2 linked regions of the Homo sapiens genome follow. The protein of the gene in region 1 purifies or fractionates together with the protein of each later gene. This does not show direct contact. Each region holds a gene or a part of one and is shown on either strand. Other genes may lie near its edges.

What was found.
Region 2: the proteins of MVK (region 1) and CCDC91 purify together in Homo sapiens (affinity purification with mass spectrometry; 3 studies listed by BioGRID and IntAct, with this or other methods). This does not show direct contact.

Annotation. Positions count from the first base shown.
Region 1 is NC_000012.12:109,582,636-109,590,793, reverse strand, and holds part of MVK (mevalonate kinase), read right to left. Parts: intron 4,773-8,158; coding exon 4,669-4,772; intron 4,041-4,668; coding exon 3,995-4,040; intron 3,704-3,994; coding exon of another isoform or gene 3,629-3,703; intron 24-3,628; coding exon 1-23. UniProt on the Homo sapiens protein: Catalyzes the phosphorylation of mevalonate to mevalonate 5-phosphate, a key step in isoprenoid and cholesterol biosynthesis.
Region 2 is NC_000012.12:28,452,116-28,460,273, forward strand, and holds part of CCDC91 (coiled-coil domain-containing protein 91), read left to right. Parts: intron 1-362; coding exon 363-539; intron 540-8,158. UniProt on the Homo sapiens protein: Involved in the regulation of membrane traffic through the trans-Golgi network (TGN). Functions in close cooperation with the GGAs in the sorting of hydrolases to lysosomes.

The sequences.
Region 1 (8,158 bases):
GCAGGATCTGGAGAGCTGGCGACCTGCAGGGTGAAGAGGAGGCAGGTCCACACTGAACTCAAGATGGAGGAGCTGGGACAGGACTGGGAGCAGTCCGGGAAGCCGCCCACCCTGATACGGAGGAAGAAGGGAGGCACAAGAGGTGACACTGGATTGGGGGAGCATGGGGCTTCTGCTGCTGGCCACAGCTGCGCCTCCATCCCAGGCACTGGTTGGGTGGCCATTCTCCCTTGGCTTTTCACTCATTTATTCATTCAACTTCAACTGGGACCTACAACATGCTAGGCACAGCGTGGCCTTGGGGCCGGGGCCAGAGAGGGGATAGGGGAGAAGGGCCGAGAAGGTTTTTCTGGCATGACGTGGACACTGAGAACTGAGGAAGGGTAAGAAGCCACCAAGCAAAGCTAGAAGGGTGAGGATTTCTGGCAGTTGGAGCAGCCTGTGTGAGCCTGGAGGTGGCGGAACCCGGCACAGTCATCCAGTGAGAAATTCAAAGTGGCTATAGCAGAGTACAAGGAGGGGGCGAAGGTTCACTTGTGTGGGTCACCCCCACGAAGCTGGAGTTTTAGAAAGACCAAGCAACAGGCCCTGAAATGGATCACACAGAGGGAAGATGCCCAGGCTAGCTGGTGCGGGCAGTGCCACGCACGGGCTCGTAAATGCAGGGAGGGCAGGGTTGCAGAGGAGGATGGTCCCCAGCACGCTGAGCCCATTCTTGCCCTACCTCAATGGTGCCCGGACGAGCAGCCCTGGTCTAAAACCAGATGTAGAGTCAGTCATCCCCTTGGCTGCCCTCTGGCACATAGACGTGTCCCAGGCAGCCACGTTGAGCTGACTCTCTAGCATGACCCCGTGGTCCTCACCTGCCCCAGAGGAGCTGCATAAATCCCTCCTAAAGCCACAATCCCAACTGTCCTTGTAGTGAGCCGTCTTCGAGGGCTCAAGCTGACATTTCTTGCCATCCAACCTGCCTTTCAGAGGGCTGCAGGCTGGGATGGAAGGTGGGGGATTTGGATGAGCTCTGGCCCGAGACAGCTGGAGACGGGCAGAGCCCTTGATACCTTTATTCGCTGTCTTCACAGTTCAAGATTGTAAAATCCAATAGGGCTGGAAAGGGCTGCCAGAAACCTGCTTTATCTCACTGCCCATAAGCCCATGAAATTAATATCGATTCTCAGCCTTGGAGGCTGGCTTTTTTTTTTTTTTAACTTTACAAAAGATGAACATTCTATTTGGCTTTTCTCTTCCCTTCTAAGACAAGCCATTCCTCAAAAGGGCAGCGTTCTGGGAGGCCGCATCTTGATCCACTTCACAAACAATGCATTTTTTCTTTACAGAGAGGCACCACGCATGGTTGGTGGGGGGAAGCTCCTTAAGCCATCCATGGGATTAACGTGGAGTCTGGCCCCCAGCTTCTCTGTGAAGCCGCCATCTGCTCCCGTGGCACCCCACAGCAGGCAGCAAAGGTTGGTTTGCTCCATGCTCCCATCTAGCCAGGCGGGAGGAGTTTGGGTGTTGCATCTTCATCTTTCTTAGACAAGTCCTCTGCAGACAGGCCTGTCACCAGCCCCACCAGATCCAGGGCTCATACCCATCCAGCGGCCACCACGCAGGGGGTAAGCCTGGTAAGCGCTCCTGTGATCCGGGCTTGGCCACTGCCCCAGCCTCTTCTTCTCTCCTCGCTCCCCAGGCTGCTCACTCCACTCAGCCACTCTGACCTCCCAGCTACTGTGTCACACGGCAGGCAGCGTGCTCGTCTCAGGACCTTTGCACCGCGCTTCCTCTGCCAGGGACCAGCCCCGCCCCATAGCGGCGTGACTTATTCAGGTTTCTGCTCAATGTTCCTTCACCAGCAGCCCCCGAACCCCCATCCAATCGGACCCCTCCTTCTCTTTGTAGCCTCTGACCCTGCCTTGTTTCCTAAAGGTGCTTAAGACTGCCTGATATGCTCTCACAGACAACTGATTTTTTCTCCTCTCCCAACAAAGTATGAGTTCCACGGAGGCGGGGCTTTGTTTTGTTCCCTGCGGAGGCCCCAGTACTCAGCACGCAGTAGGTGCTTAATGATACTTGTGGAAAGGATGAATGAACTCGGCCAGCAAACAGGTAAGCACTTCAGAGCCACCGCTTCTGATTGTATGTTCAAGATCCCCCTAAGTAAACAAGGAGCTGGAGGTCTGGGAGAAGTGACTCACCTGAGGGCACCAGCTGGCAAGTGGGAGAGCTGGACTCAAACCTAGGCCTGTGGACCCAGCGCCTCCGCCCAGCACACCAGCAACGCCTGGCCATTCCCCTGGCCGTTCCCCTGCCCGCCCCCCTTGGAAACCTCCTCATTCATCTCCTGATGCCCCCAGTAGACCGTACACTCGGTGCCCAGCCCACGTCTTCATCAGTTTTCTAGCTCCAGGGCCTAGTCCAGTGCTTAGGCCACAAGTGGCTCTCAGGAGACACTGAAGGAATGAAATGCCACCACTTCCATGAATGATTCCCCAGGCTCGCAGCCAGATCTAAGACGCCTGTCACTGTCACCCACAGCAGCTTCACAACCCTTCAGGTGTCTTCTCTCTGACGATTCCAGTGACCGCCTTCCCCATCAGACCGTGGGCTCCTGAAGACAGGCCGGGGCCCGGGCATTTGAGACTCCCCCACATGATCCAGCTCTGGTTCCACATGGATCCGGGGCGGTGGCAGACCAGCTTCACCTCGGCACCCGAGGCTCTCCTGACGACTGCTGGAGCAACCCGAGGAAGCTGTTCCACGCTCCTACTGGCTTCTGCGGAGTGCAAAGGTCGGCGGCAAGGGTGATTCTGCCTCCCAAGGGACACTAAGCAATGTCTGGAGATGTTTTTGATTGCCACGCTGAGGGTGCTACTGGCATCTAGTGGGTAGGGGCTGGGGATGGCTACAATGCACAGGGCAGCCCCACCACAAAGAATAACCCAGCCCCAAATCTCAATAGTGCCAATGCTGACAACTCTGACGTACAGCCTTGGAAAGGGAGGCATGACTGAGCTGGGACAGAAAGATCCCAGAGAACTAGCCGGGGGCCCAGGTGTGGCGCTGTGGCAGGCCAGGTTACTGAGCCACTAATGGAGTGGCCCAGCTGGTGGGGGCTGCAGGCCAGGACCTGCCACTCATCCATGAAGACCGCCCTGAGTAAAGAGGAGAGAGCCCCAGGACCCTTACTGATGCGAAAAGGCCCATGGAGGTGGCAAAGTGCCCTGGGACAAACACCACCCCACAACTTGATCAAGGGCTTAGGGAACAGTCAAAAAGGCACCTGGCTCCCCTCTGCCATGCGTTTCATTCCAGGCACCCAACAATTCTGCCGTGGGTGCAAACAGAACAGAGGATGCTGAAATCGCAAACAGAACAGAGAATGCTGAAATCGCACATGCACGTTTGTGATTCCAATGATTCCAGCGGGAGGGACACAGAAACATAAAACAGGCTGAGAGTCTCCAAATGTCACTTCTGCTCCAAGCCCCTCCCAAGCCTCCCTCCCGCTTCCATCCTGCCTCTGCCCTGTGTGCCTCCATCATGGTGACTCTCACATTGTCCTGTGGCGGCTTTTGTGTGTGTCTGGCCCCACCCCCACAAGCAGACTGAGAGTCCTTGGAAACTGTACCCAAGCTTCATCTCTCCATTCCTACGCCCCAGTGCAGCATCATCGGGAACACAGGAAGTAATGGATTCTTGTTTACTAAGCAAATACAGGAATGAATGAATGAGCAGCTGAGAGTCTACGGGCACAGCCATGCATGACTTTCCCTTTCTGATATCTCTGCAATTTAAGAGCTGAAGGGGAGAAGGAGAGAGCAGGTCTTCCCCACCACCCCTGCTTCCTTGCAGCTAGTGCACTGTGAGGGCCACATTGGGGGATGAAGAGCCAGGGACACCTGCCTCCTATGGTACTTCCCAAAGGTGCAGAGCTCTGCCCCCTGCACACATCAATGCAGCCATGGCTGAATGTGCTGCTCCACCCCCAGGTTACCTCTTTAAGGATGAAATCTTCCCTTGATGGTATCGGAGGGCTCCTCCTAAAGAGAAAAACCAGTGGGTCAGAGCTGTGGGAAAAGCTAACATATCTGTGCTACTTGGGAGAGAGGTTGAACTTTGGGTTGGGTTCATTTTGCCCCATTCAGGAAAGAGGCTAAGTAATGAGTCAGCCCAGCTTCAGTTACAAAAGGTGCAGGAGGGCAAAAGGTCCCCGAAGCCCCACCAGGAAGCTCTTGCCAGGCCTTGGATTCCTGGGTCCCCCTCCCTCCAGACTGTCCAGCTTCCCCCGACAAGCCACATGGTGAAGGTGGGGCCCAGGACACAGCATCTGGGCCCTGTAAGCAAGAGTTCTTGCCAGAGGGGAGGCCACCTGGATGGTGTGCAAACTCCACGGCAACGGCTCTGCATCCTGAACCTACAACTCTCTTGGGGAGCTCGTGGAAGCTGCAGCTTCCCAGGCCCCAGTTCCACCCCCGGAGATTCTGATTCAGGGGGTGTGAGACAGGGCCCCAAGATTTCTCCCCATTCCCCCCAAAATAGGAAAATGCTATTTTTTCCAGAATCCATTGATTCGATTCCTCCCAAACCAGCACAGACTCTTGGGCACCTACCATTGTAATAAGAATTTTTAAAATAACAACAATAAAATAAACCTGAGGCCACACCTACCCCAGGTGCTGACAGCATTGTCCACTCCGGAGGGGTTCCCGTGAATCATTCTCTCCCCTTGGAAGGCCCACTTGTTAATTAGCTCCAAATCCTCCTTGGTCCACCTGAAGACACAGATGTTCATCTTTACTGTGGCAGTGAGGAGTGGGGCTGGGGAGGGGTCACCTGGGGCTGTGCTGGGCAGGCCAAGGGGCATAGGAGCTTGGGCCCTTGAGCTCAGAAAGAACAAGTCCACTCTGAACCTCTCCAGCTACGGAGCGTGCCAAGTGTGCGCCCTTCCCTCTGAAGCCCACCTGGCGCAGTCAAAACAGCCTGGGCTTTGGACTCCCGTGGTCCTACTTTGCCTCTTTTTTTTTCTTTTTTTTTGAGACGGAGTCTCACTCTGTCACCCAGGCTGGAGTGCAGTGGTGCAATCTCAGCTCACTTTCTCCCGGGTTCAAGCAATTCTCCTGCCTCAGCCTCCCGAGCAGCTGGGACAACAGGTGCACACCAGCACGCCCAGCTAATTTTTGTATTTTTTAGTAGAGACGGGGTTTCACCATATTGGACAGGCTGGTCTCGAACGCCCGCTTTGGCCTCCCAAAGTGCTGGGATTACAGGCATGAGCCACCGCACCTGGCCCCTGCATTGCCTCTTACTAGCTGAGTGACTCTGGGCCTGTTATCTAACCTCTCTGAGCCTCATTATCCTTCCCTGGAGAATTGGAACCCCCACCCTCCTCAGAGGCTAGCTGCATGTGTGTCTAATGATGGCAAGGTGTCCACAAGCAGCAGGTGGCAACTGCCACTATAACAGACCTCTGCATAAGCGTCCACACCTGAACCAAGCCTGCCTTTAAGAAGAACGGGCAGAGGTGTGACTCTTTCCCAGGGCCCTGCAAGTAGATCCAAAGCACGATCATTATGAATTCAAATCCCAGGAGCCCCAGAGACCCCTGGAGGGGCCAGGCTCGTCCCAACCATGTCTGGATCTCTCCCAAGCACGTGGCCTCACTGCCTTCCATGGACCAGGTGTGGGCTCACAAACAGTTTAAATGAACAGACCCAAAACACATGAGTATGGAACAAGACAAAATGATCAACCCCACTTCCCCACTCTTTTCTCTCAGCTTTTGTTTCCTTTCTGCAGATTCCCTTCCTCATGAAACAGCAGAAGCTAAAGGTGGTTTTCTGACCTCTGAGAATGATGTGGCTCAGTGGCAGAGTTATGGAGTAAGCAGTCAGCCTAGTTTTGTTTTTTTGAGATGGAGTTTCGCTCTTGTCCCCCAGGCTGGAGTGCTGTGGCACGATCTCAGCTCACTGCAACCTCTGCCTCCTGGGTTCAAGCGATTCTCCTACCTCAGCCTCCCGAGTAGCTGGGATTACAGGCGCCTGCCACCACGCCTGGCTAATGTTTGTATTTTTAGTAGAGATGGGTTTTTGCTGTGTTGGCCAGGCTGATCTCGAACTCCTGACCTGAAGCGATCTGCCTACCTCAGCCTCCCAAAGTGCTGGGATTACAGGCGTGAGCCACCGTGCCCAGCCAGTGAGCCCTTTTTGGAGCCCATCCTATCACTGACTCACTGGGCATCTGTGAGCAACTGCTTCACCTTAAACCCTGTTTTCTCATCCATAAAACAGGGATAATAGTGTCTATCTCACTGAGGATATTGAGATGGAAAAAATACACAAGTGCTTTGTGTAATGCCCAGGAGATAGGATGTGCTCCCCTCAAAATAGGCCGTCTGGGGTCACAGCGCCTGGGGGCCTGGTTCAATCACTTACTTGCTGTGAGCCCTGAGCAAGTCAATTACCTGCTCTGAGTCTCTTTCTTCATCTGCCAAATAAGGATTTTTACGGACTTGGCAACTCACATGGTAGCTGTGAGACTATGATTAATAATGAGTTAACATCAGTTAACATACTATTGATTAGCATGTGCCAAACATTGTGCTAAATGCTTTCTCAAATGGACCATTGAGAAATGGTTCATAATCCTCCCAATTGTGCCCTACAGGGAAGGTATAATAATTATCCTGTTTCTTACAGAAACGGAAACTGAGGCTTGGATGGGTCAAACAGCATCCTGGAGATCACAGTGCTACTCACTGCTGGGTCAGGACCACATCTGCTGACTTGGAGCCCAAGCTCTTAGCTACTAACTTAATGGTGCCAACAAGATACACTCACTTATTCATTCAGCATTTATTGAGCAACTGCTATGTGCCTGTGACTAAGCTCCTAGTAGGGAGCAAAACAGACAAGGTCCCTGACTTCTTGGAGCTTAGAGTCTAATGGAGAAAGTGAAGGTCAGAAAGCGATCAGTATTCAAATACAAACAAATCCATGACACTGCAATATGTGACTTCAAAGCAGGTGTTTCTCAACAGGTGCTGGAGAGGATGTGGAGAAATAGGAACACTTTTACACTGTTGGTGGGACTGTAAACTAGTTCAACCATTGTGGAAGTCAGTGTGGCGATTCCTCAGGGATGTAGAACTAGAAATACCATTTGACCCAGCCATCCCATTACTGGGTATATACCCAAAGGACTATAAATCATGCTGCTATAAAGACACATGCACACGTGTGTTTATTGCAGCACTATTCACAATAGCAAAGACTTGGAACCCACCCAAATGTCCAACAATGATAGACTGGATTAAGAAAATGTGGCACATATACACCATGGAACACTATGCAGCCATAAAAAATGATGAGTTCATGTCCTTTGTAGGGACATGGATGAAATTGGAAATCATCATTCTCAGTAAACTATCGCAAGAACAAAAAACCAAACACCGCATATTCTCACTCATAGGTGGGAATTGAACAATGAGAACACATGGACACAGGAAGGGGAACATCACACTCTGGGGACTGTGGTGGGATGGGGGGAGAGGGGAGGGATAGCATTAGGAGATATACCTAATGCTAAATGATGAGCTAATGGGTGCAGCACACCAGCATGGCACATGTATACATATGTAACTAACCTGCACATTGTGCACATGTACCCTAAAACTTAAAGTATAATAATAATAAAAGAAAAAAAAAACAGACCAAGGATCCAGAGCTACCTAATTACATTTAATAAATGATAATATAGTTAAAAAAACAAAAACAAAAACAAACCAGGTGTTTCTGTAAGAGTACGATGGGCTGAATTGCTGGGGGCTGGGGCGGGGTGGTGGTGCCTGAAGGACAAGGGGAGCCAGCTGGGCAAGGTGTGTGTGTGGGGTGCATTCCAGACACACCACTTGTGCAGCACTGGAACCACACCAGAGCTGGCTGGCCCTTCCCAGGGACCAACAGGTGGCAGCGTGCCTGGGATGAAGTGAGTGATGGAGGCGGGGGAAGGTAACTCAGGCAGCTGACCTAGCCCAGGGCCTGGCCCTCTCAACAAATGTGAGTCTTCCTCCTGCTCTACACAGTTTGTTTTTTAGGGGGCTCAGATTTGAGTCTTCAAAGGAGACTGGGCTCCAGTCCTTTCCGACTCAGAAACACATGAT
Region 2 (8,158 bases), about 81 Mb from region 1:
TCTTGAATTTCTAATATGTATTAATACATATGATCAACATAAACAAAATCTCTTTGATATCCTCAATAATTTTAAGATTGTAAAGGGATCTTTAGACCATATAGTTTGAAATCTGCTACTCCACCCTAAGGCCTGATTTCTTTGAAGATTAGAAATGCCATGGAAATTAAGTAGGAATATTTGTATAAAAAAGAATAATAGATTTTATTTTGTAGCAGTTATTTACTATGCATAAAAACAGCAATGTTAGAACTAAACACTATAGGATCAAAGTTTTTTATCTTTTAGGTTAACCAAGTCTGTTACTCAAGAAATTATTATGCAGTCTTTCAAATTTGTTCTGGTCTTTATTTATTTTGAAGCTTGAAAAAGAAGCAGTGAAGGATGCAGTTTTAAAAGTCGTAGAAGAAGAAAGAAAAAATTTAGAAAAAGCGCATGCTGAAGAAAGGGAATTATGGAAGACAGAACATGCAAAAGATCAAGAAAAAGTATCTCAGGAAATTCAAAAAGCTATACAAGAACAAAGAAAAATAAGTCAGGTTAGTAATATTAACTGTTAGTAAATATTTACTTTTTTCTCATTTTTCTCAAAATGAAGTACCCTTACTCTATCTTTTATCTTACTTAAAACAACCTTAGTAGATATTTATGACTTTTTAATTTTTAATTTTCATTTTGATGTTTATATTTTGAATTAATCATTTTTAATATTTTAATGTGCTTTCATCTTTCTGATATTGAAAACTTAGTAACTGACCATTTTACCCTTTTACTTTATTTTCTAAAAGGTCAAAACAAAATTTATGTTTAGTCATTGCAAATATATTAACCTTTCTGTGTTGTTTTTCCTTTTCTCATACATAGAGACACATACGCACACATGCACACAGACTCAATCAATACAAAATAATATATTTGTGTAGAAAACAATTTGATTCAATTAATTTATAATTCTAATTTGTAAATCTCTATACCTATAGTTGGTAACAATAATTAATAAAACCTCACAAATATTCCCTATAGTCTCATAAAGATACATAATGATCAACAGGCATGACCTACATGCAGAATAACTTTTGATTGTTTATCTGACAATTAAAAACACTACCTTAGTTTGTTTTTCTGTAATTGAATTTGCACAGTTCTATTTTACTTGAATTAGTCTTTTTATATATATATAGGCAGAAGTACTTAAATAAATCTTCCCTTAAGTATCAAAAGCAAAAGAATAACATTCATAGAAGTCTAACATGTTCAAACTGTTAAATATACTACAATTGTTCATTCACATTATAAATGCAGCTAAAATGACTAACCTTTCAGATCAACCCAGATTTTTTTTATGACTCATTAATCTTAATGAAGCCGTAAAAAGCTCAAAGTTTTTAATATCCAAGATAAAAGTTATATTTTTAAAAGATGTCACTTGTTTATTCTCAGGAACACACAGTTACCCATTTATTACAAAAATTAAACAGATCTGTAGGTACCATCTATGTTAAAATAACAGTAGTACAGTAGCAGATCTTTTTTTTTCTTGCGTTTTTTCACTAAAGCAATATTACCTTCTAATTCTTACCGTAACCTATCAATAAATATATATTGAGTACCTATTGCATATAAAATGTTTGTCACTTCAGTTGGTTGGAATTTCATGCCAGTAAGGTCAAGTTCACTGGCTAAGTTCTTATTCGGGAGAGTTTATTTAAATTTGTTTTATGACCCCGAACATTCCTGTAACCTCACATAGATGTGGGCCATTCATCACTTGAATTGGGTAAGAAGGCATGAAAAAAATCAGCACATATTCGTCATCCTAATGGAAAAATATATATTTTAAAGAGCACACTTCTCTGCTGATTTGTCAAGAGTCTACAAGAAACATGCAGTATATGATACACTACTTTGAAATTTGTCTTCTATAGGTTCAGAATATGGTGAAGACAATCTAAACATGTCTTGAATAAATTATATTAATTTCCTTACAAATGTTTGCACGTTTTGCTAGAAAGTCTCTGCCAAGTTAAATTATATATCTCTGTATCATTTGGGTGGATTTCAGGACATTTATTTCTTTGTTTGGAACATTATTCCTTATTTATTTTTCTTGACTCTATATGTTGGTTTCTATGCATTAGAAATAACAGCTACCTCTCACAGTCTTCACTGACTGGCCTTGTACTGGTGAAGACCCACACCAATCAACCTAATCAGAGATTTTGTGGGCCTCTCAAACCTTTATGCTAATCCAAACTGCTGTGTTTGTTGTTGGCACCGCATAGCTGTCTATAGTACATGGTGTTCCAATGCTTGCAGATAGGTGAGACAGAAGCCAGTCTCCCAGGAGCCCCTGGAAAAATTCGAACTTTGGACACGTAGTCCAGCTCTTTCCCTCCCTAGGGAGAGGCTGCAGTCTGAGGTTTTTTGCCATCTTTCTTGGACTGGGCAGGAGAGTAGGCTATAACAACTGTTTGCTTGTTAATTTAAGCCGCTATCTTTATTCTCACAGGCCCCCAGGCATCAGTAGTATGCCAGGTCCTGTTACGGCTCTGAGATAGGTAAGACAGAAGCGAGTAACCTGGGCAGTTTCTAGAAAGGTTGGTTGGACATGTAATCCAACTTTCTTCCCACCAGAGAAGTTGAGAGCTGTGGGTTTCCTTTGATCATATGGCACTGTACTGGGGATAGGGATTGTGGTGAGAGTTAGGTCTTGAGTTTTCCTACCAGTTTCAGTATAGCCGGTTTCATGCTTGCCCAGGGTGAAGGACCCTTTCAGTTTGTCTCTGGATTTCCCACAAAGGGTATTTGTGCATGCGTCGTTGTAAATTGAGTGTTTCCATGGAAGGACAGAGGATCCAGGGTTTTCCTGTTTCACCTCTTGTTGACATCATCTGGTATTTTAATATTTTTCTAAATTCCCAAGGTAAAGGAAAAAGTAAATGAATAATGTATCTGATTATAATCATTCAAAAAAATGAAAATTATGCTAGTTGTAAAATACCAGCTACAAGAAAAATAGGCATGTAGAAAACATGCAGTAAATATCCTGAAGAGTATACTTCCCAGAAGATGCTTTTTAGGACTTAATTGTATTTGTTGTCCAAAATTTTCAAATAAGTTTATAGATATCATTTATTAATTAATCATATTAGTTTCCTAGGAAAAGCCAATTGGAAAAACTAATATATTACTACAGATTGGTTTGTATAAAGTCCCATGAGCTTAATTAATTACCCTAAATTAGTTTCGTTGCAAGACTAGAAGTATAATTTATAAATAGACTTTACCCCTGGGCTACTAGTGATAGGAATCTGAAATACTGCCTCTTCATTCTGTACATACCCTGGAGGATTTTAACTGAGTTTCACATTTATAATTAATGTCCTTGTTACTTCTTTTAGGGAAAATCCCTCAAATAAAGGGCATTACAAAAGCTGACAGATCATTATCTGATAACAATAAGGGAAACAATAATAGTTCCCCATGTTCAAGTTTCATTAAGTTGCCTTTATTCTAAGCAAATATATTAAGTTAGTTTAGCTAAAAAGGTATTTTTATGTTTTTTTTTTTCTTTGTAGCTTTGCCTGCAGAAAATAATAGCAGTAAGATAATAGCAGAACTGGTGGTGGTGGAGATGGCAATAATTAACAACATTGACTATCATTAATTCTAAGTGCTGAGCACTTTTCTAATTTTTTTAGATGTTTTATGTCAATTCCTCACAATGACCTTATGAAGTAGGTACTATTATTATCCCCATTGTTACAGATGGGGAGACTAAAGCTTACAGAGATTATGTAACTTGTTTTAGGCCATGTGACTTTTTAGAGGAGTCAACAGTCAGTATTCAAATTCAGGCAGTTTAACTCCTGAGGCCTTGTATTTTGCCACTACTCTATTCCATCTCCCTGTGTTCTCATCTTAGTATAAAGTACAGATTTATGTCATTTATCATTTAGTGTTTGAAATGATCCTAGGAAACTGATAGATAAGTTCTATAGGCAAAACTTTAAGAAGGTGTTATTTTTATGTATTGTCCATTCTGTAACATTTATGGCGCCTCTGCCATGTTTTGGCACTGTTACACGTTTCTGACACACAACATTAAGCAAGATAGTCAAGGCCCCTGTGCTTTCACAGAGCTTACATTCAAGTTGGAAAAGAGCTATGATAAGCAAATCATGCCGTGTGGTGCTGTGGGCTAGGAAGAAAAAGTTTGGGGTTATATATTTAGCTGATAATGGTTGTAGGGGATTTCTTTAGACAATATAGTTAGGAAAGAAGCCAAACTCAGTAAATTTTCATTTCATATAAGTCAATTTATATGAAATTCTAGGGAAGACAAAAGTGATATGAGAGAAGACACATCAGTAGTTACAATAACTGAGGGCAGGGGAATTTTTTGAGGGCGATGATAATGTTTTATGTCTTGATTGTGATAGCGCTTATATTTGACAAAACATATCAAATTACACACTTAATATTTGTGAAAATTATATGTAAGTAATACCTTAATAGAGCTGATTTTTAAAAAACAAATGACTATCAGAATAACTGACTGGATGGATGGTGATTTTGGATGTAATTTCATTTACTGAGGTGAGAAAAGGTTAAGTTTCATGGGGTTAAAAAATCTAATTTGTGTGTATTAAATGTGTGATGCTTATTCATGAGCCTAGAGGAAATGTTGAGTAGGCAGTTAGAAATATAGAAATGGAATTCAGGGGAGTTGTCAGGCCTGGAGATAGAAATTTTGGATTAATAAGCATATAGTTGTTATTTAAAGCCAAATAAATAAAAAGGAAATAATTTCTAGATAGGGTTCTATGACATTCTTTTATGGATTGTGTCCATCTTCTACCTAGAAAGAATATGGCCACTTTAGATTAACTGTAAATAGTTTCACACGTAACAGTTTTACTTCAGATGAAATAATGAAAGTGTTAAAGTTATTGGTGCTGTCTGTGTCACCCTGTAACCCATGATTGAGTAGCCAGGCATTCATCCAGACTTTCTAGGAAGCTCAGGTCACCACTACGAACAACAGCTTCTGCCACTTTCTGCTGAGCCCCAGCCTAGATGCAGAAGTCAGTGCTCATTCTGTCTTTTAGGTGTTTGGCAGCTAGTTGGGATACATAGACCTGAAGAGCCTCTCTCCAGGGACCTACAAACTGTTTTGAGTATTAACTGAAGGGACTGACTTTTTAAAAGCTTGGAAGCCGTTTTTGAATTCTAAGGTTTAGGTCACTTCACAGCACTCAAATGTTCTTTTAAAGAAAACTAAAAAGCAACCATAATTAATAGCAGTTAATATCTTTCTTTGTCTACTAAGTCACAGTAGAAATTAGGAAATGATCTAGTATGGCAACACAAAAACATTGTGCAACTTAAGCCACTTCAATTATTCCTGAGAAATGAAAAGGGAAAAATCAGCTTCTGCTTTAGAATTTACCTCCAGATTTCCTCTCTGCTAGTACTGGCATTTACTGAGGAGATAAATGTTAAACTATGACAGAAAACCGAGTACCTAAGGATTGTGGTAGATAATTCTCAGAATTTACTTGAGAGATGTTTTCCTTTGGCCTTGATCGTAAGTTAAGACTAAGTCTTAGTGTTGATTGTAAATTGTACTTTTTTTCTGAGATAATAAGAGGAAAATTTATGACCCTGGCTTATTGATTTTCATATTAAATTAATTCTGGGTCACTTAAAAGTCTTTGTTAAGTAAAGGAAAAGACGTTTGTTATTGACACCAAAGTAGGCAAAAAGAGGATAGTCATTAATTTTGCTGTTCTAGCAAAATCCTGTAAAAGAACTCCAGTGCACACAGACACTCAAACTATGTCTGACGTTGGAAGCTCTTCATAATGGTTTATAACCACAGCCACTGTAATTTGGGGTTATGTTTTCCCGAGAAGCCACAGACATTACAATCAGTGGTTAAATTTTCCTTAAGAAATTTAGTACTGCCACCTGACCCTTCTTTTAAAAAAGGAAATAGCATTTCTATTTTAGCTTAGCAGGCTATTTTCACAACCCTGAAATTTTTCTGTGCTGACTTCTTTAGTTTTGATTCATTCATTCATTTTAAATTTTTTATTTACAATACTTTGATAATAATCTAGATGATAATAAAATCATAATGACATTTTAAATTATCAAATGTATCATATCTATAGAGAAATTATACCTTTTCATCTAAGTCCTTTTTTCCTTCTATTATATTTTTTTCAGTTATAGTCATTCAGTGAGATGTCTGTAATACAACATCTGCCAAGTTTTTCAGTCCAGAGAATGAGAATTCATCCTAGATTTTCCCTTTTGTCCTCATTTGCACACCTTTTTTTTTTTTTTTTTTTTTTTTTTTTTTTTAAGATGGAGTCTCACTCTGTCGCCCAGGCTGGATTGCAGGGGTGCTATCTTAGCTCACTGCAACCTCCCCCTCCTGGTTTCAAGCAATTCTTCTGCCTCAGCCTCCTGAATAGCTGCAACTACAGGTGCACACCACCACACCTGGCTAATTTTTGTATTTTTAGTAGAGATGGGGTTTCACCATATTGGCCAGACTCAAATTACTGGTCTCAAACTACTGACCTTGTAATCCACCCACCTCACATCTTTTTAATTATCAGAACCTTTCCATTTTACCTGAAAAATAATCCTTAAACATATACACTTACTTCAAACCTGTTATCTTTGTCTCAATATTCTTATTGCTTACCTTGACCTCTTATGTAGACTTCTTTACCTCCAGTTTTGTGCCTTTTCAACTTGGAGTGAAAAATGGATATCATTCTCCCACTTTAAATTCTTCCAGTGCCTCCCTGTAGCCTATAAGATAAAAGATAAGATAAAAGTTCAAACTACTTAGCATAAAATATACATCTTTCATTGACCTGGTCTTTACCTGTCTAGCTCGTCTGCTGCTGCTCTGTTTCACATTTCATGCTTTTAGAACCAAGTGGCTGGTACACATAGTGGGCTATTTTATGGTCTTGGGCCTTGGTTCATACTGCACCATCAGCCTAGAATCCCATTGCTTCCTGACTGGCAAAACCCACTCTTATTTCATAATTCTTCATTTTTACCCTCCATAAAACTTTTATTTCCTCCCTGCAGATTAAATCAAGTGCTCCTCTTGAGCATTCAGTATATAACTGTACCACTGCTCAGCCATATTATTATAAAAAGACCTGTTTCTATGTCTTCTCCAATAGATTATGAGCACCTTGAAAGGAGGAGCTGAGTATTAACAAACTGCAATAGATTATAATATATAGGACCAGCACTGTTTTAAGGAGACATACTAATCTTTAAAAAATCAACTGGGTCTCCAACAACACAATTTGGCTCTTAGAGTTTTGGTAGCTTTTAATTGGAACATTTTACCAAGATTAGAGTTATTTAAAATAGTGCTTCGGATGTTATTATCCCCTTTTTAAAGAAGTATTCATCACACTGTCAGTTGGATGCCAAACTGAACTGATTCTTATTATTGTTACTCAATGAAAAACTTGGAAAATACTCTGAGAGGTCAAGGATAATTACTTTCAGCTTCAGAAAAATGTTTACTTTGAACGACTAGTATATATTTGCTCTACAGTGATGAATGGCTGCATGAATACAAGTAGAATTTTTAGGTCATAGTAAAGTAGTACACTCTCTCTCACTGGTCAAACGGAAGCATTACATTCAACTATACCATTCATGTAGATTCAAAAGATACCATGTTTTAAAAGACACATTTCCAAATCAGAATGAGAATGTCTTAGACATTCATTTGTACCTCCTCAGCATCTATTCCTCTGTTCCCAATGTGATAGTTTATTTTTTAGCGATGTGGTTTAGAGGAAATTTAACCTACTTTCTAATTTACATATAGGTACTTGTTGATCTAGGCTAATAATTATTTTCCATCCCCATGTTCCAAGGATGCATACATAATTTGAGCCAAGCTCTTCAGACTCAATTTGAGGACTTGCCTCCTCAGGTATATAAACTCTGTTGTTCACAGTAAGAAAATGAGGAAATCTTTAAAGCTGTTAGTAATTGTCTTGGGACCATATATGTAGAGCTTTTGAGAAAATAGAAGCAACATCATTGGCAGAGCTAAGAACTGAAGAAGTTTGCCTCCTGATCACATTGTTTGCGTACTAGA